2 separate regions of the Homo sapiens genome follow, and region 2 is linked to region 1. A link means that fine-mapping ties the variant in region 1 to the expression of a gene that starts in the linked region. Tissue or cell type: whole blood. Region 1 holds a variant in brackets; the other region holds the start of a gene. All regions are shown on one strand. Distances are from middle to middle.

What was found. PIP is the estimated chance that this variant, and not a neighbour inherited with it, causes the effect.
Region 2: it holds the start of SERTAD2, and the variant in region 1 is fine-mapped to the expression of SERTAD2 in whole blood (INTERVAL, PIP above 0.99).

Annotation. Positions count from the first base shown.
Region 1 is chr2:64,627,885-64,638,338 of GRCh38, reverse strand. SERTAD2 (SERTA domain containing 2) reads left to right here. Exons shown (of 2, transcript NM_014755.3): 2 at 1,464-6,718. The coding sequence starts at 1,468. The coding sequence ends at 2,412. SERTAD2-AS1 (SERTAD2 antisense RNA 1) reads right to left here and starts at 1,415. Exons shown (of 2, transcript XR_940172.3): 1 at 1-1,415. The variant TTTGAAG/G (reference allele first, on the strand shown) is at 5,438.
Region 2 is chr2:64,648,850-64,659,303 of GRCh38, reverse strand. SERTAD2 (SERTA domain containing 2) reads left to right here and starts at 5,391. Exons shown (of 2, transcript NM_014755.3): 1 at 5,391-5,684. LOC124907776 reads right to left here and starts at 5,233. Exons shown (of 1, transcript XM_047446580.1): 1 at 4,081-5,233. The coding sequence starts at 5,024. The coding sequence ends at 4,593. RefSeq lists an enhancer at 3,817-3,976 and silencers at 4,758-5,577, 5,315-5,609, 5,718-6,047, 6,348-6,427.

The DNA of each region.
Region 1 (10,454 bases):
TGGGACTCCCCACTGGGCCTGGCCAAATGCCTATGACAGTGTAGATGTGGATAAGTTATTAAAGGATTGAATGAGGTGTGATCAATCAGCTGAAGCAGTTCATTAAAAGGTAAGTGGCATTTAGAAGAGAAATTGAATAACTACAAAGCAGTTGCCTGTATATGAAGACATGAGAGTGAGTCACACTGAGGACAGGATTAGCAGGAGTCCCTGAGAGTGCTGTAGCTGGAGGCGGGGACGGTGAGGGAGCAAGCATGGGCCTGGCTTCATTCGAACCACGATCCTGGTCCGAACACCAAAAGACAGGTTTCTTGTTAAATGGTTAGAAAGTGAGATCTTTGAGGCAAAGGCTAATGAACTTGAGATTGTTCTGTTTAGACAGTAGAAGTTCTGAAAGGAGGTTGTGACGATGTCACATGATCTTGGAAAGTTGGAAGGCCCACTCCCCAGAAGGTGACAACCAGTTGATAAAATGTATTCACTAAGGCCAGAGCAAGAGAGGACACAGCCTGGCCTGTGAGCAGCAGGCAAGATGGGGCAGGAGTTCCTGGCTGCAGTTTTAAAATTCAACCCATTACCAGATTCTCAGGGTCTGAGATATGAGGTCATGGTTTCCTCAAAATATGCATGTATCTCTGGAATCACAGGAGGTAGTTTGTTAGGAAATGTCTCGAGTACCCAAACAGCAATGCTTATAATCAGAGCTAATTACTTCAAAATTAATCCAGTTGTCTTCAAACATAACTGTGTGTGGATGAAGTTGAGCCAAGGAAGAACTTAGGCTGGGACATACGCATTCCTCCCCTTGATTCTAAATGAAAAGTGGCGGCGGCTCAGTCACTGTGGTCATTTAACACAGGTGCAGTGCTTCACCACATGTCCCCAACCAGGCAGAAAGACTCCGTGCTTAATGAGGAAGGAAAAGCATTTTGAAAGCACACACAGTTCTACCCAAATTATACATGTTACCTTTCTTTAACTTGGTTCTTTTAATCCTTTAAGAAGTGCTCAAGCTGTAATCTATGACACCTGTATCTGTTTAGGTCATAGCATTGTAAGTGTTTTCTTGGGCTTTAAAAATAAATCTACGTGGGGGAGGGAAATCGAACCTGCATGATAATCTTAGGCATGCGAACACAAGCACATGAGCTGAGAAAGTCAAAATCATGGTTTCCATGGTAATTCTTAACTTGTCTGTGTCGTACACATTTCTCAAGAAATACACTCACCAGACTACCTAGTGATAAAAATTGCTCCACAGGCATACAAAGGTGGATTTTCTAACTCTCTCTTATTGTAAAAGGTCTTCCTTCCTCCCACCCCTAATTAATCCACGTGTACTTGTAAATAACCCTGGGCAGGAAACTGAGGTCCAAGTCCTGCCCTCTAAATCAGTCTCTTTTTTTATGGGAGAAATCAGCTTTCATGTGATTAATGCCATTTCCTCTCTCTCCCCTCTGCAGATATATGTTGGGTAAAGGAGGAAAACGGAAGTTTGATGAGCATGAAGATGGGCTGGAAGGCAAAATCGTGTCTCCCTGTGACGGTCCATCCAAGGTGTCTTACACCTTACAGCGCCAGACTATCTTCAACATTTCCCTTATGAAACTCTATAACCACAGGCCCCTGACAGAGCCCAGCTTGCAAAAGACCGTTTTAATTAACAACATGTTGAGGCGGATCCAGGAGGAACTCAAACAGGAAGGCAGCCTGAGGCCCATGTTCACCCCCTCCTCCCAGCCCACCACCGAGCCCAGCGACAGCTACCGAGAGGCCCCGCCGGCCTTCAGCCACCTGGCGTCCCCGTCCTCCCACCCCTGCGACCTCGGAAGCACTACGCCCCTGGAGGCCTGCCTCACCCCGGCCTCACTGCTCGAGGACGACGATGACACGTTTTGCACCTCCCAGGCCATGCAGCCCACGGCTCCCACCAAACTGTCACCTCCAGCCCTCTTGCCAGAAAAGGACAGTTTCTCCTCTGCCTTGGACGAGATCGAGGAGCTCTGTCCCACATCTACCTCCACAGAGGCGGCCACGGCTGCGACTGACAGTGTGAAAGGGACCTCCAGCGAGGCTGGCACCCAGAAACTCGACGGTCCTCAAGAGAGCCGCGCAGATGACTCAAAACTGATGGACTCTCTGCCTGGGAATTTTGAAATAACGACGTCCACGGGTTTCCTGACAGACTTGACCCTGGATGACATCCTGTTTGCTGACATTGATACGTCCATGTATGATTTTGACCCCTGCACTTCCTCATCAGGGACAGCCTCAAAAATGGCCCCTGTGTCTGCCGACGACCTCCTCAAAACTCTGGCTCCTTACAGCAGTCAGCCTGTCACCCCAAGTCAGCCTTTCAAAATGGACCTCACAGAGCTGGACCACATCATGGAGGTGCTTGTTGGGTCCTAAGACCCAGGGACCCAGCGACTATGCCCACCCAGACCCCAGAGCGTTCCCATAACCCTGACAGTTCTCCACACTGTGCATGCACCCTTGCTTGCCTTTTTCAGAGAAAAAGAAAATTTTACAACAGGATCACACTAGTTTTTGCTTTGAGCAGAGTTGGAGTGCCTTCATCCAAGTATGACCACTTTTAATACACTTTTTTGAGTGGTTCCTCAGAGACCTACTACCCTGGTATAGGAAAGAATCCATTTGAAGACAATGTTGCAATGTTGAATGACAAAAATAAACAGTTCAAGTGAAGCACAAGGATTAAGTTGGAAAAGCTGTAAATTGCATGTGCATATTTGTCTATTTTTTCTATAAGTTTTATTGCAAGAGGTAAAGAAGAAAACTATATATATATATCTTATTTAGATAATCTCAGTACCTTTTCTGGCATTTTTGCCCTGTATAGGTTGACTTGGCAATTCGGCCTTTTTAGAGGCATTAACTACTCCTCGTAAGTGTTGCATTTACATGGCTGTTTAGAAAACTGCTGCCCAAATTTATTTTATATTTTTGTACAGATTCTGCAGTTTATGATATTGTTTTTCTAAAAACAAATGCTGTTTATACATATGAGATAGCTATTTTGATAGGATTTGCTCACATAGTTCCTGCAAACTTCAGATGTACAAGTTGCACTTGTACTTTTATAGAGTTGTAATGTTTTATATGTGTATGGTGCAAGAGAAAATTGGATCAAATCAATCTGCAGTTGATGTCCCCAAATGCAAACACAGGCACACACATGCACACACCCATAAACACACACACAGTGCTTTAAGAAAGGGCCAGGTGATATCACACCCAAATTTCACAAGCACTGACCCCCTGGCACCAACACCCGCCAGTACTGTGACTTCCAAAGCCAGAGCCACATGTGCTCATCAAACTTGCATTAAGCAGTTGGCGGGAGATGGCTGTGGAGCTGGGGGTTTAAGTGATGGTTCTCTTTTGCTCCCTCTTTTGAGGGTAAAGCTACTGTCTTTCTTAAGAGTGTATTTATGCCAAGTTTGCGCTTTTAATTGTTTTTATTTTGTTTTTTAATGAAAACCCAGATCTTTCCTTTTTGGCATAATTTTTATGATGACCTGAAATTTTACATCCGAACAAAATTTTACATCCGAAAAGCAACCAACTTCTTCATGGAACTCAGCCCTGTTGCAATGCTTAGGGCCCTTAAAGAAGAAAATCTCCCCAGAAGGCATCCATCATGTTGCTTAATTGTCTTCTGCAGCTTCCTTTCCCTAGAGCTTTCCCTGTGTTGCTAAGAGCTGAAAATGGCATCTTCGTGATCACCACAGTGAGCTTGGCTCGCCTCGGCCGGCCCGGGATGCACTCTTACAACATGTGTGACTCTTGAACCTGGAGTTCATCACATTACGTCACAGCTTCCCATCTGGTTGCTTTCCTGAGTCAGCTACTTCACACTTGTCAAGGCTGTTTTACCCCAAAACTCAGACAGGACTTTCTATGCATGTTTTCCCTCCTCCCCCCAATTCCCCCCCCCATCACCTTATCTCCCAGGACACACTTGAGAAGTAGCTTTTTATTCCTAGTGGTGTACATTTAATTTTAAAAAGGTTGCAATGTATCATGCTTGTTGCCGAAACTGTTTATGGCCTTCTTGTTTCAGTTTTTTCTTTTCTTCCAATGGTACTTTAGCTGTTGAGTGCAGGTTACAACCTATATTGTTATGCAGATGGCTTCTTTAGGAATAACTTTTATATTTATTTAAAAATTTTTAAATTATGGGATGTTTTGTTGTTGTTGTTGTCTTTGTTGTTGGTCATTTGTCAATATTCAGTCACCAATTCTGCTCACTTCTTGCCATGGATAAAATTGGGTCTTTCTGGCTAATTAAAAAAGACAACTTTATAAAATGGCACTTTAAGCAAGCCATAGTTAGTTTTATTTTTGTAATGCACATGGCAAAGCAAAGACGTTTGTGATGAAGGAACTGCTCATCTAAGCAAAAGATTTGAGTATGATATGATAAAGGCTTTCTACATTCTAATTTACTTTTTCCCCCCACTTGAATGTGTTTTAAAGGCTAATTATCAGCTCAGTAGAGCAGTGAGAAACTGATCAAATTGCACTTGTTCTCCTACAAGCAACCTCCACGCAGACACCTCGTACTGCTACAGGTGTGTCATTTCCTTTAATAGGACCAGGGACCATGTAACTGAGGTGAGGGTTGTAGTAGATGCTTCCAGTGTCAGTATGCCTGTTAATTTTAAGAGCTTCCCTTTCTTGCAGAGAACAAGTCTGCCCAGATTCCATGCTTTCTATAACTGGAGGACCTGGCAAACCTGCCGCATGCTGCACACATCTACCTACGTACACATATACAATAGTATTGATGATTCTGAACAATAACAGGGTAAAACAGTTGGTTTGCCATTGTTAAAAACTGATTTACAGTAACTTACAACAACTGTACTTTTGTTGGATTAGCAAATCATGTGTTTAAACAAATCCCATATGTTGGGCAACAGTTCAAATAAGCACGGAGAAGTGTTGCCCAAACTTGGTTCTCTGACTCTTATGTATTTGTAAGGCTGGGCTTCAAAATCAAAACAAAAACCCCAAAAACAGCAGGCAAATGCTTTTTAACTCTGACACCGTTGCCATAAATCCCTGATACTCAAAGTCTAACAAGAAAGACATGGAAAATTAGCAGCCCATTTTCAGAAAGATCAAAATGATCTAGGGTTCTAATTGCTTTTGCATCCTATTCTTACAAAGTGATGTCCCAACAGGGAACAGTAGGAGCTGGAGTGGGATCTCCAAGTCCCAGTTTGAGTGTGGGATGTGCTTCCAGCAGTGCCTTCCCTTTATGAAAGACATCACATGGCATCCAGGGCCAGGCAGGCAGCTTGAGGTGCCTTTACGAGAAAACCGAGCTGGGGCTGGGAGAGGACAGTTATTGACACTGATGTGCAATGAAGTGACAAGATGAGAGCAGAATCGTAAGAGCTTTGAA[TTTGAAG/G]TGAGTTTTTTTCCCCCCATAAGTTATTTATTCCTTTTTTCTGTGTAAATATATTTATTTTACTGTGGAGCGCTAACATCTGGATCGTAACATGTGCAGAATGTATGGTAGGAATGTATTCTCTTGTAGGAATGTAAATCTGTATTAAAAGGGGGTCCAAGCCAGGCCCCCAGGTCTTCTCATTGTATGCACAGTCCGCATTCATTTTTACTCTTCTCTAATATGGGTCTATTTGAAATATGCAAAAGGTATGAGGAATGTTTTAATACCTCCAAATTTTTAAGAAAAGCATCAAAGGGTTGATATTTTTTAAAGTTTTTTTAGTAGCACTTTCTCTGGATGACAGAAGGAGCAACCACATGGGCACCCTTGTTCATACCAAAGGGTGAGCAGTGGCCAGAGCCTCCTCTGCACCTCTCGAGTGTCTTTACCAATTGAGCTTTTTATCGCCATAGCCCCTTGGAGTGCCCCAGCTGCCCTGAGGTCAATCAAGGAAAATTTCTTAATGAAATAAGCTCCAAAGAGCCAAAGTATCAACTTACAGATCGTTTTTAAAGCTTAAATTTATGAACCACCTTTGTGGTAAACAATGAATTATGAATACCGCAGGGCAGCCTTCTTAAATGACAAATGTAAAAAAAAAAAAAAAAAAGACTCTACTTCGTGCAGCAATTGCTACTCTATACGAATTGTCTTAATTTGAAAACCTTGCTGTTACAAATTGGACCTTTATACATTTTCTGAAAACAATGAAAAGAGTATATTTAACCTTTTCTGGCTGTAAATGGTTACCTTCCTGTAACTGCCCCGCACCTGGAGGCATGGAGTTGTGTGCATCCTGCTTATGTACAATTGTTTTCAGTGTTTCTAAGAATGAGTCTGAATGGTTCTTGAAAATTAGCCAGGATCAAATGCTATTGCAGACAAAGCCAATAAAAAGTTGGACTTCTTTTGGGGATAACAAGTTTTGGAAGAGAAATGCAGGCCATATGTGCGCATGACCGAGATTTTGAAAAAAGATGTACATAGTGACATGTTTGGTGCATGGTTTTTGAGGAGGGCTTTTGTCAAAAAGGAGGTATAACCTTTCCCCCACAGACCTGAGAGCTGTGCCTTTTCTATGCAATATTACAGACGTTACATCGGAACCCAGATGGCTGTATTCACATGTAGGTTTGGGCTGTAATCTAAACAATTGGACAGATTAAATGTACATGGAAATGAGCAGTCTTACTTTTGTAGTTTTATATTATACAATAAACAGTTAAAAGATGAGAGAGGCATGCTTGCAGTTTTCTTTTGATGGGAGCTCAATCAGCTTATTTGTGACAGTTTGCTCACATTAAGCAAAGTCCAGCAAGAGAGAGCAGCAGGGGGGCCCCGAAGGAGTGCGTGCTGTTGGTCTTCCTGAACCGTCCTGGTCTCAGGAACCACCCTTCTCTCCTGGTTCTCCTCCTGCTTCTTGGACCCTTCTGGACCTCCTTTTTCTCACATCTGTGCCCCAGCTCTCTTTAAAACATTGTCTTTTCCAGGGTTTGGCCCATGACTGCACTTCACTGAGCCTCCATTCCTGCTGCCTCTTGCTTTCCCAAGGTGATCTAATCCACTCAGGACTCTCAAAACTGGTCTCCAGCCCCTGCCTCTCTCCTGAGCTCCAGACTTCAGTATCTACCAAGATTTGCTCCCTCACTCTCAGCGCGTCTAAAGAGCTCTCGTTTCCCCTGGGGGCTGATTCTTCTGTGGGCTCGTTGTCTTCAGCACTCTGCTCCACGCTTGGCTCAGTTGCCCACCCTTGCACCCTGTTCCGCAGTCCCAGCCATGTCATTCCCTCTGCCACCACCTCTCCATCCTCACCATAGCGTCCCCAGCTCGGACCCTTTCTCTCTCCTTGCCTCTGACCGCCGTACCTGTTTCCTGACTAGTCTTCCTGCTGTGATCGTCTCTCTACCATCCCTGATGCTGGAGTTGACATTCTAAAATGCCAGTGGGTCACGTGGTTGTTGCACGTCCTCCAGGTGTACCCACTGATTATACCATCTGGACCCTGCCCCTGCTGTCTTCCAGTGGGGAGTGGGGGAGACCCTGTGCAACCTCCTTGGCCACTGGGCTGTCTTGGATGGAGTCATGGGATCTGGCCTCACCTGGCCTAGGCAGTTTTTTATTTTGGTGTGGTTGGGCCACCACACCACTGGCAAGGGAAAAGGGATGGATGTGTGAGACCTGGGAAGTGAAGGTTCAGCTCAATCAGCAGTGGAATGTGAGGTGGGGTGTGAAGTGCTGGGGAGGTGTTAGGGGCTGAATTGTTTCCCCCAAAAAGGTAGGTTTCAGTACCTCAGAATGTGACTTTAATTTGGAAGTGGGGTCTTTATAGAGGTAATTAGGTTAAAATGAGGTTATTAGTGTGGGCCCTAATTCAGTGGCTAATGTCCTTATAAAAAGATATTTGAACACATACATGCATACATGGAGAAGGCCATGTGACAGTGAAGGCAGAGACTGGGGCGGTGGATCTACAAACCAAGGAGTGCCAAAGATACCAGCAAACCACCAGAAGGCAGGAGAGAGGCATGGGACAGACACTTTCTTACGGCCCTCAAAGCAACCAAGCCTGCTAGCACCTCAATCCTGGACTTCTAGCTCTAGAAAAATAAATTTCTGTTGTTCCAGCCACCCAGTCTGGGACACTTTGTTTCAGCAGCCCTAGCACACTGATGCAGGGGTAGAAGAACAGGGCGAGCACTTTCCAGACACCCGGCGGAGATAAGCACCAGGCAACTAGGACGGAGGGTCCGTTGTTCAGTAGAGTGGTTTGTATCTGGAATTAGGAGCTTCTGCTATTAATTAATGATAAAACTTTGGCAAATCATTCAATCTCTGTATTTATGAGGATGAGATAAAGCGTGGCTCCCAGAGCTCTTTGAAAATGTTGACAGTACAATGAAAATGCAAATTATGAATGTCGTATCTGTCCTCATGCCTAGAGCTGTGCCCAGCATATGGTAGGCACTCAAAATGTTTGTTGAATGAAAAGAAGAAAAAACAATCTTGTAGTTCATCTTTCTTTATAGAATGAGAGAAGCCCAGCACTCAACATCTTTCTTGTCTGGGTCCTGGGTTCACACCACACTCGCCCTCAGGATGTGCTGCTTTGCCAGCACGCACCAGCAGCCTGCCTCCACGTGTCCTTGCTTGCACCTGCCCCTTCTGCTTGTGGAAATTCTGCCCATCATTCCAAGGCCAAACTCAAATGCCTGTCCATGAAACCTCTGCATGCCTGGAGTCAAAACCAGCCTTTTCCTCTTCTGGGCTTTCCCAGAGCTCCATGCCTCCGCAAATGCACTTAGCAAGTCCTGCCGCGTCTTCGGATTAGCTGTGCAGTTTGTTGTCTCTGTACTCCCTGTATCCTTAAGAGCAGCAACCCTGTGTTGTTTATCTTTGACAGAGGTTGGCAAACTGCAGCTTACAGGCCAGATCCTGTCCACTGCCTGCTTTTGTAAGAAAAGCATTGCTGGAACCTGGCCACGCTCGTGTATCTGTGTGTTGCCCTGTCTGCTGTCTTACTACGATGGCAGAGTTGAGTAGTTGCAAAAAGACCACATGGCCCTCAAAGTCTGAACTATTTGCTATTTGGCCCTTTACAGAAAAAGTTTGCCAAATCCTGATCTTTGCAACTCTCCCAATACTGAGAACAGCGTCTGACCATAGATGGGATAGGCTCAGGGCTACATAGACTGGGGACACACACCCCTGGAAAGATGAATACGGTACAGGCGTCAGGGGAGTCCTAAGGGTGCAGAATGCTGGAGGTGGGGTTTCGAGGGCCAGACGGGGCAGAGTAGTCTGGAAAGTTACACAAGAGTGGACATATTCAGAGAGCTTAAGACTTGGGAGGGGCCATAGAGCTAGATCTTCCCACCAAAGGGGCCTTTTTGACAGATGTGCAAACTGAGGCCCAGAGAGGGAAAAGGATTATTGTCTGGGGCAAAATAGTTTATAGCATCAGAGTTCAGTTTGGCTCTGCTACCAGATCTCCCAAGCTTGAATCCTGGCACCTACAATCTTGGGCAAGTTCCTGAGCCTCTCTGTGCCTCAGCTTTCTTAGCTATAAAACGGGGGAAATAATTGAGCTTGTCTCAGGGCATGGTGGGGATCAAATGAGTCAATGTGAAGCACGCTCGAGCATTTCTAGGGCACTGGAAAGTCCACAAATGTCAGTACAGCTAACATGATGGCAGACAAGGCTAAAATCCAGCTCTCCACTCTCAGCGCGGTGTTTTAGGTTAAGCCTCAAAGCACAACTGGGGTATCTTAATGCTGGAGGCATGTTTGCTGGGCAGAACCAAGATTTCCTAATACCTTGCATGTTGTGGTGGTCGGCCACTTACAGAGAACACTGTGCTCTGTGCTTGCATGGCAATATGTGGTCCCAGAATCTCTATTGCCTCTTCCATCTTCGTTTTAATGCCCTTTTGTTCCCCTTGGAGAGGAATATTTGACTGAATCAGGAGTAATAGTTTCCAGGGTTACCACTTACTGAGCACTCACATGTGCCAGACACTGCTATATACTGGTGTGTGTGAGCTCATGAACTCTTTCCAGCACTTTGAGCTTTATCTTACTACCCCCACTTTACAGAAGTGGCAGCCGGCTCAGAGAGGTTAAGCAGCTTGCCAAAGGTCACACAGCTGGCAAGTGGGTAGAGCTGGGATTGGGCCTCTCTGACTCTTAGAACACCTTCCAGCACATGTCTTGTCTTCAGCCTCGAAGCTGAGCAAGGTGTTCGAATCCGATCGTTACCTCTATAACTTCCCTGAACCTTGGACCTCTCTTCTTCATGGGGTGTGGATTTCTCCTGGCACGTGCACAGCATTGCCCTGAGGAACAAGAGGAGGAAGATCTCCTACTGGGGCCAGCAGTAGACCAGGAGTTAGGATAGCTCTCCAGGGCTGAATGCCCCGTCAGTTCTCTTGTCCTGGCTCTGTGTGACCTTGGGCCAGTCACTTCCCCTCTC
Region 2 (10,454 bases), 21 kb before region 1:
TTCTCAGATCCTCTGTTTAGTCCTCTATGAAATGTGGGTAGTAGTACCTGCCCTGCCTATGGCACAGGGAAGGTATTATGAAGAGCAAACAAGTGGATCCATATGAAAGCACCTTGTGGCCGGGCGCGGTGGCTCACGCCTGTAATCCCAGCACTTTGGGAGGCCGAGATGGGCAGATCACCTGAAGATGGGAGTTCGAGACCAGCCTGACCAACATGGAGCAACCCCGTCTCTACTAAAAATACAAAATTAACCAGGTGTGGTGGTGCATGCCTGTAATCCCAGCTACTTGGGAGGCTGAGGCAGGAGAATCACTTGAACCCAGGATGCCGGAGGTTGCAGTGAGTCGAGATTGTGCCATTGCACTCCAGCCTGGGCAACAAAGAGCAAGACTACGTCTCAAAAAAAAAAAAAAAAAAAAGCCCCTTGTAAATTGCCTGCTGCTATACAAACTTAGGGGGTAGGGGTATTCCCAGTCTCACAGCTGGGTGACTTGAACCCTAAGGGGTAACAAATCTAGAAGAATATGGATAGAACTGCTCAAGTCCATCTTCTGGACTTAAAAAAATAATTCAAAGAACATATTGAAGAGAGCACATTATCATTATTTGTATTTCTAGTCCTTTCATTTAGAAATATGTGGACATGAACTTGGTTTTATATTCTTCCAGACAAGCTGAGCAGCTTCCAAAGCATTTTATCTCATTTTAGCCCTAAAACTCCTCCATGAGGATATTGACAGTGTAATCACTGTTTCATAGACTCTTAGCTCTAGGGAGGGGCTCTTGAAATCTTTGAGTCCAAGTTCCTTTTTTTGCCAGGTGTCGAAGCAGGCCCAGTGCAGAGGGTCTGATTCGGCCTCCCTGCTCGCTGTGGCTGACGAGCTAGCCCTGAAATCACCTAACTCAACAACCCTGTGCTCTTTTGACGAGAACTGGTGCTGATCCTAAATCCGTGACCAGTCAATTAAGAAACTAAAAAGTCATAGATTTATCATGGTTAAGTAATTAATGTGTACAAGATCTTCAAACTCCTAGTCCAGGACTTTTCCTGTCACCAGGCTGGTTCCTGGGGGCAAGAAAGGTCTGTGCAATTTCTAACATTCATTGAAATTTTCTGTGGAAGCTAGAAGTGTGCTCAGTGCCTTGAGAAGAGTGGGAACTTCTCAAGAATGATGGATGGCTTATAGACAGGAATAAATACATAGTCGATGCGTAGAGGCAATGTGTGTTGTGTAGGGAGCTGGGGATGGGAGATGTTTCTGAGAAGTGACCACCAGTCTTAGTGGAGTAGTGTCCCTACAGGAGGGAACCCTGGAGTTGTCAGAGTCACCAAGAAGGTTCTTTGCATTTTGATAGACTGCACAAGGCTTTTGAAGATTCAGTGGAAAATGGAATAGGAAGGAAGCTGATGCCTAACAGAAGCCATCTTCTCCAGTAATAGTTCGAAGGGACTGACCCCAAGTGCTAGAAAAAAAGGAAATGGTTTTAAAAGCATTTTCTTTAAATATTGCCATGAAGATTGTGTTTCAGGTTTAGATTTACATATTGTCAGATTTTTAAAAGAGAAAAAGGTATATCTTTAACAGACAAGTGAAACCTCCCTCAGAAGGTAAGAAGCAGTCGTTGCAAAGCAGTTCAATGTAACAACATGGAAAGCTTTGCAAAGGGGCCTTCACTGGAGCTGTAGTTCTGCTTTTATGAATTGTGACTTCAGGGAGGAGCAGAAAAAAACCATGACAAAAGCAGGTGGAAGAAGAGATGGAGAAAAGTTTGCAGAAGTAGAGGAGTTCACTTGCTGCTTCAATAGAATTGTTTTAAATTGTTAGTGGCTGAAAAGGACTGAATCTGCCTGTGCCATCTTTGCGAGAGTATTTACTTTTCCAAATCATTGTATCCTCTATTGACTCCTTGCTAATCAGTTAGGTGATGTGACTTCCAGAACTTTATTTTGAAGACTTATTCCAATATTCATTTATCCGAATGATGAGTCCACAGTTAGGATCTCCGTATTTTCCATGAAAAGCTTATTTAGCCTAGCTGGCTCTATACAATTCATTTAATAACTGAAACATTTATCTTTTTTGCCATAAAACCAAGACCAATATTTGCAAGGTATATAGATGGATGATCATTACTGGCATTTCAGGTGGAACCTGAAAGATAAAAATTTAATAAAAGCAAAGGAAAAATGAAATTAAGTTCAAAACCTGTTGTAAAGTCTTTGTTTCTCAGTTTATATACCCAGTTTGCCCCTTGTGTTTTTGGTGTGTGCTAATTAAGTGCCAAAAGTGGCCTTCAGTTAGTGCACTAGTGTACTAGTCTATAAGATGTGAGGGCACAGAAACTTTCAAAGGAGAAGCAGTGAAGTGTAAACTAGTACCCAGAACTACAAAATGATGCCGAGAAGTACTTCTCTGAAATTAAACTCAGGAGCATTTTTAAAATTTACCATCACAGTTCTATACTTATAAAAGAAATGTTTCTTTTCTCCCTAAACAGATATGTTCCTGGTAGTTAAATGTGGATGACTAGCCTAATTTCTTATAACTGTTCTAAAGTTATGTTATATGAAAGTGAGAGGCAGATCTTCTAAATTCTGGATGAGGCCCTCAGAGTAGGATTATTTTAAATGGGATTTTGTTTTGAGACAAGATCTCACCTACATTGGAATGCAGTGGTGTGGTCATTGCTCACTGCAACCTTGAACTCCTGGGCTCAAACAATCCTCCCATCTCAGCCTCCTTAGTAGCTAAGACTATAGGCATGCATCACCATGCAGGGCTGATTTTTTCATTTTTTGTGGCGATGGGGGTGTCGCTATGTTGGCCAGAATGGTCAACTCCTGGCCTCAAGTGATCCTTCTATCTAGGCCTCCCAAATTGCTGGGATTACAGGTGTGAGCCACTGCACCCAGCCCTTAAATGGGCTTTTAAATCTCCCAAAGAGTGAGAACAAAATTTACATATTCACTAAACACTGCTTATTCAATGACATGATTTGAAATAATATTTTATTGAATAAATATTTCAAATCATGTCATTGCATACTGAAGGGAGCTGACTTCAGAAGTGTGGAAAGTGCCTTTCCTTATCCTCATAGACTTGAATTTCTAGGGCTGGGTAGAGATTGCTGTCCTGGCCTATGTGTGGCTCAGCCTTGGGGTAGGGGGTTGCATAAGGGGAGGGAGAGGGTTAACCAGCTGGTGTTAACCACATTGGCAGCTGTTGAAACTGCCAGCTCACTTTAACTTCTTGGTCAAAGATGCCAGATTCTAAAAGTGGGGGAAGTGGGAGCTATTTGTAATGTGTACATTGATAAGATGTTACAGCCTTCAGAGGTATAAAGAGATGGAAACTATTTCACTCCAAAAACGCAGGTTGCTGGTCTCGTTAAGAGCGCAAACCTTTGTTTGAGCAGGTACAGAATACAGACCTTATGGACTTCAGCAGAATCCTGTCTATCCTAGTGACACAAAATTGTCACTTTGACTTAAATCCTGTTATTTTATACAGAAACACTGCATTTGGTGTAATCTATTTGCTAGAAAATATCCAAGTGTCACAAAAGTTCTGCAAGTGTAACTTCCTGCTTACTTTAATTCAAGAATAGCAGTTTAAATTCACAAATAGCAGTTTAAATTCACCTTAAATTCAACAGAGCTAATGCCTCTGGCCTCCTCTACAAAGATATCACAGGAAGAGATTATTGCAGCTTCTATTTCAATGGCTTTTCCTTAAAGTGAGCACTGAAAGTATAAGTGAGTGGGTGGTTAGGAAACTGTTAGTAGTTAATGCCCTCTCTAAACTGCAGAACTCTGGAAATGAAAAATATCTTCGCTTCACAGCAAAATGTTTGAATGTTATGCCACTCAGGCGCAAACTGAGCAAGACCTGCAGAGGGCCGGTGAGCACAGCTTCCATAATATGTCATTTTGAATGCCATTATAATGAGACTTTGCAAAGATATCCACAAATAATTAGCTTTTGGCTTAGGTTATACTGTATAAGACTTTAATTATACTGAGGGTCCAGTAAAAACCTTTTCCATCCTCCTTAAAGATAAAACAAGAAGCGTTGTCTCCTCTATCAACATTTCAGCACAAGTTTAATTTCGATGAGATCATCAATTTGATTGATAACAAATCATTACAGAACAGTTTAAACAAGTCTAAATTTCTCTTGATGTTAACGACTTACAATCGCCTTTATGTTAGGTCTTAAAGCTTTATTATTCTTAAATACAACTAGTATAGTGGACCATTAAACTCCAAAGTGATCTGAAATGATATTGATTGGGGTGGCAGCCAAAATTTTAAGGTGCCTGCCTGCATTGCCTTTTACATCTTGACGCTGAATGCACGTGTAATTTTTAAAATAATCATTAATTTTCCAGTGGAACCATCTATCTGGCCTCTTTCCCTAGTGCTCTTAAATTCTCACCATTTGGGCATACACACATTCTCTTCCAACTAGTATAAATTTCCCTGGTAAATTTAAGTAGTTCCAAGCATAAGCTTACTCCACGGGAGGGAAAGGCTATCAATGTGAAACTTGTGGGCAGAGGACTGCGCCTCCGACCTGGCTGCGTCTCCTAGCTTGGCTTCCCTCCTGCCGGGTCTGCACCGAGCCCCGGCCGGCCCCGAAGGATGCAACTCGTTCGGTCCGGCTCCCAAAGTGCCGTGGACTTGGTGACCCACTTCTCGTGTCGGGCTGAGGCCACGCGGGCAAGGGACTTTTTCTGTCCCCGGCTCACGGCTGGAGCCCCCATCCTGCCGTTCGGACCAGTGCGGGCCTCGGAGGAGTGTCCCGCAGCGGACCCCCGCCCAGGAACCCCTGCAGGCAGCGAGACGGGCGCCCGGGCCAGCTCTCTGCCCCTCGCCCCCCGCGGGGACCCTGCCCGCCCCGCTGACCGGCCCCACGTTGCCAAATAGCTCAAATGCTTGTCATATTTGCGGTCGCGCGGCTCCGCGGGCTGTGCACGCGCTGCACTCGCCGCCGCCTTTGTCACCAGCCGCTTCGTCATTCGCCTGAGCACTTCTAGAGTGTGTAGGGGGCGTTACTAGTGGCAGTGGTGGTCCTCGGGCCGGAGTGTCTCCTTCTGTCTCCCCTCCTCTTTCAGCCCGTCCTTACGAGAAAATCAGGGGCGCGCCGGCCCGGCAGGGAGCTGGGGGCGGCGCTGCCACCAGGCGCCCACTGCGCCCCGCCGCCCCTTCCTGCTCCTCCTGCGGCCGCGGCCGGCCGCGGCCGGCCCCGGCCTTTATCGCGCCTCCCGGGACCGCCGGGGAGAGGCGGGCCGGGGCGGGGCCGGCGGGGGCGGGGTCGGGCGGCCAGGGGCGGGGCCTGCGGCGCCGGGGCCCGGAGCTCGCGGGAGGCTCGCGGGCCGCACGTCACTCCTGCACGGCGAGTGCTGGAGCACGACGTACCGCTCGCTCGGTCAGGGCGCCCCCTCCGCCCGCCTCCTGCTTCCTCCTCCGCTGCCTGCCGCCGCCGCCTCCACCATTGTATAATGCTCGGGGCGCGCAGGCAGAGAACGGCGGAGTCTTAGCTTCAGCCTCGCCTGCTGCCCGCTCCCCGGCGCCACCCTCGGGCCCCTGGAGCGGGGCACTCCGCATGGAGCGGGAGTAGCTGAGGAGTGGGCGGAAACCCCTCCTGATGCGTTAGTTCCCAGGTGGAGCTGCATGTGGTAAGTTCTCCCGGCGTCGGGCTGGAGGGGATCCGCGGGCGCGGGGGGCTCCGGGTGGATGGGGGGCCGGTGTTGGGACTCGGCCAGGGCTGGGAGAGCCCGGAGGGCGGAGGAGGGGCCGGGCGCCGCCGCGGGAGGGAGCCGGGGACGGAGCAGGTACGGGAGGAGCGCTCCCTCCCGCGGCCCCGGTCCGGGCCCCGCGCTCTCGGACCCCCGGCGCCTGCGGGCTGAGCCGCTGGGGGGCAGGGCCGGGGTCAGGAGGGGGTCGGGAGCTCGGAGAGCCGAGCGGCGGGCGGGGGCGCCTGGAGCTGTCGCCTCTACAGCTGGGATGTGTGTGCGCGTTGTGGCGGTTGTGTTGTTGTGAACGTGCGAGACTTTTTTTAAGGCTCGGATTGCTGGCGCGAAGGCTGCTTCACTTTTGAGTTCCGTGGCCGGGTTTGCATCCAACTTACTGTAGTGCGTTTTTGTGAATTTCCCGGTGTTTTTTTTAATAATGTTGAAAACCTTCCTCTCCACCCTCTTTTCTTTCGTCCATGCCCAAATGAATTGATTTGGGATCTACATGTATATTAAACTTAACGTCTCGTTGGTTTTTAAGTTAGAAATCTACAAGTCATCTTCGTGGTAACCGCCTATGACTGAAAGGGAGGGGGCTGAGGGGAGCCAGCTGTCCCAAGCCCTAGACTTTGTACCAGTAAGAGAGGGGGTGTCGTCACAGGGCCACTACATGGACAGAAAATCGTATTTTGTTTTGTTTTCTTGGCTATAAGTTACCTTTAGCAGAAGTGGTAGTAATAGATTGCGATGGGAGTCGAGTTTTAGGTTTAGTTTCTAAGTTTCACGAAAATATCAGGTATAGTTTGCATTGGAATAACTTTTTGCTTGCAAGCCGAGTCGTTTCAGGAGGTAGAAAGTAAGTTTTCACAGACACTGAATGGGGAGGACAGTCAGCAGAGTGAGACAGCCAGCCTCAGACCACAGCAGTTTTTATTTGAATCGAATTGGGCAGCCTCAGTTGGGCTTAGGGTAGAGAGTACATGTTTTCAAGCTTTGTTCATGAAATACGCTTTTTGATTTCCCAATGTATGTTAAGAAATATCCATAATGTGTGTAAAGAGGCTAGAAGTTGTAGTCACCAGGATTCCTGAGGCCCTAAGTGTTCACAGTAGCTTTTTGTAGTTAGAGACTAGTCCCTGACAAGAGTGAAGTGGGCTTTGGGCTTCGCTCCGCCCCTGAAGGACCGTCCACCTGAGAGCGTCTGGGCTGCTTGGCCGATGGGGGTTGGGGGTAGTTGCTCAGCTCAGCAGAAGGCATGTCTCACCCTGGCAGCTCCCATCCCTCCCCCTTTTTATAGCAGTCTATTCTGATATGAGTGTGCTAGGGTGTGCTGTGAAGATGAAAATATCCATCCTAAGATCCCAACTTCTGGAGTGAACAAGAATAGTTTGTTTGTGGATCTCTGCTTTTCTGTTTATTTTTTCAGGGTTTTTTTTCTTTTTATTTAAAAGAGACAAATGTTTAAAAGTTTTCCTTTAGCTTCATTGACTTCTTTAGAGGGGTATTATATGTTAATATAAAATTGTTTATGTCGTTCATTAAGTTTGGAATCCTTTAACAGTTTTTTTTTTTTACTTGTTTCACCCCCTAATTAAAATATACATAACCATGTTGTTCTCAGATGAGAAATCTTATTTTGGATTTGACATCCCCCAACCCCCTTTTTCCTTAACACCCGGCCCTTTTCCTTACTTCATTCAGACAGGTAAGGGAGAGGACTCACATTTTGTAAAGCCAACCAAGTGTATGTGTGACAGGAGGTGTCCTAGGGAACGGTTTTATTGTCAGGCGAATGTCACAGCGTCTTAGGTAACAGCTGCTCAAGCTTGTTTCCCTTGAAGAACTAAGAGAAGGATATTAATTCAGATTTAGAAAATCTTTACACTTCTGTTTGCTGAATTGTCCCTCTTTAAAGCTTTTCTATTTAATTGAGAAGCTAAAATATGAATTTTGCCCAGTTGCTACACACTGAATTATTACTGATAATGAGCCTAGTAAAATAGCACATATTTTGATATTTTAAAACTCATTCAAATTTGTGTGGCGACTGATAGCTTATGGTATCTGCTATTTTAAACAGGGTTCCAATGGCAGAGTAAGTTACAACACTACTTTAGAAAGGCACACACATGCATCACACACAAAAAACATTACAAAACGTATGAAGGCAGTTTGAAGATGTTCGAATGCAAATACATAAAAATTTCTATCAACTTGCAGCATGCTACTTTTATTATCAGTGTCCAATTATACTACAAGTTTACCCTCAGACAAAATATTTTACATTTTAGTAACTAAGAAAGGTGAAAGCTGGAACAGAAACTTTGAGAGGTTTCTTTTGCTGTGGTTTCTTGTTAAAAAGCACAGAAAAAAAAGTATGAAGCTTTATTTTATATTTCACATATATCAACAGAATCAAGACCACTTTGTCAATATTACCTGTGGAAAAAGCTATATATAGATAGGCGTATTTGGGGCCATGAACTTTAATTCACTCATAGAATTTTTAAAGCTTCTTGGCAACAGAAATTTTGTATTCACTGTCATGGCATATCCTATAGGAGATAGCTCTAGTTGCAATAGTTACTTGGTGCGTGAGAGAGAGAGCAAGCGCAGGCGCCGTCTCTGATTACTGAGTCCAAAGATCAGTTGTGTACTGAAGGCACCAGAAGGCAAGCTCCAGTTGACATGAAAATGGCCTCACAATAAGGGTGACACCAGCTCTCATAGGTCTTTCTGTTAATTAATACTGACTAGCAAAACATGAAAATCTAAAAGTGCCATGGCCACTTTATATGCACAACTCATATATTTTGTACATATTGTTAATAATTACTCATTAAGCAATTGGTAGAAAGCCACAAGCCAGGACTCCTGTTTAAGAAATGTGTGGCTATTTCATTTAGTTTTAGTATGTTTGAAGGAAATGGCTACTAATCTAGAAAAAATGATTGTCTCAAATGGCCAGTGCAGTTGATATTAAAGGCAAACTTATGCCCTGTGTGCAGATGCTGGGAAACCCTTATGAACAGAACTGTCCCCTGGAGCGTCCGTCACTCATTGTGTGGAGCAGTGTCTTTCTCCATTAGCACTGTGTGGCAGTTCATTCTTTGTATGAATCTGTGAATGGCATATGTCAGCCCAATAAGACGACATTCCTATTCTGAGTAATAAATAGACTCCTTGTTTTGTTTTTTTTTTCTCGGAGATCACGAGACAAACAAAACATGATTGGCTGTCTAAAAATTTTCTTTGAAATACAAATGAAAATTTTAAAGTAAAATATCACAATATATTTTATAATATATGATTTCTAATAGGACAGAACAGATACTGCCAGTTTGAACAAGCACCACATATAGACAGCGCAAACTCTCTTTTGAAAATTCTGCCCTCTTTGTGGTCTGAGGGATCCCAAAGCTGGAAAGACCCATTTGTCTTTTCTCAGAATCCTCTGTCCCTCATCTGAACTTAATGCTAGGATTCTCTGAAGTAAACCCCACAATTTGATTGATCTATTTTGGAAACCCAAGATCACCTAAGCTGTATTCCGCACCCATTGCAGTTTTCAGCTCAGAATGGAGTTGGCATCTGTGCTCCTGGCCGGCCTATTCTTACACTTGCACACTGTCTGGCCAGAGCTGGCCCTGCCTCCCCACAGGGACAGCAGATCAAGGGGTGAGTGTGCCCGGCCCACCTCCACCCTGAGTAGAGAGTGGACTGAGCTATGCGGAGGCGTGGGGTGGGGGCTGGAGGGAGAAGAGCAGAGGACAGATCTGGAGCTGACTGTGCAACTGCTATAGCAGGTCTGACTAGTTTGAGGTGCCCAAAGGCAGCTTTGTTTCTCTAGTAACTCCAGGTAGCAGCAAACTTCAGTTCTTAAAACTCATTCATGTCTGCCTTACTATCTTTTTTGTCACTTTACAAAAACCTGTAGCTTTGCAGAGTTACTAATTAATTCTAAGCTTTTTTCCTTTAAAAACCTTCCTAGGCAGTTAACTGAAAAGAAGCTAAGCATTCTCTAAGGACTTTCCCATAGAATAGTAAAGGGGAAGGGATTCTGGTTCTTACAGACATGATCTATGTCTATATATTCTGTATATCCATATGCACACTCACTGATGTTTAACAGTGGGCTGAGTGAACCTGTTGAAGAAAAGTAAAATGTACACTTGAATAGACCATGGTCAAAAACACTAAATGATCAAAAGTCTCTTGCTCCAGATCAGCCTTTAGCGCTTTGCTTGCCTCTGCTCCGGCCGGCTGCTTATCATTCCACGCCATGCACTGCAGCTCCTGGGGTTTGGAGCAGGCCTGCTGGTGTACCCCACCCTTGTGTTTAGAAGTATTGCCCAAGTTAAACTCAGAGAATCTGAAAGTCCCAAGGTCATCTCTACACCAGAACAGGTTTGCATAAAATCCTAGTCACGCTAATGAGATATCGAGCTGGCAGCTGCTTTAAACTGATCTTCCCTGTGTGGTTATCCCATTTTATAATAGGTGATACAGATTTGCTTTTCAGATTTCTTTCCTTCTTTGAGGGGACATCTCCCTGCCCATCTGTACCTCTCCTGTGTCTTCCGTGCTATCAGAGAAAACCAATCTGCCTGAGGAATTTGGGTGCTATGATCCAGAGTGGAAGAATTTTTGCTCTGCCTCTCTGCTTGTCAGGAACTTGGTGGTCTTTTCTGAACTTTTTAAGGCAAACTAATT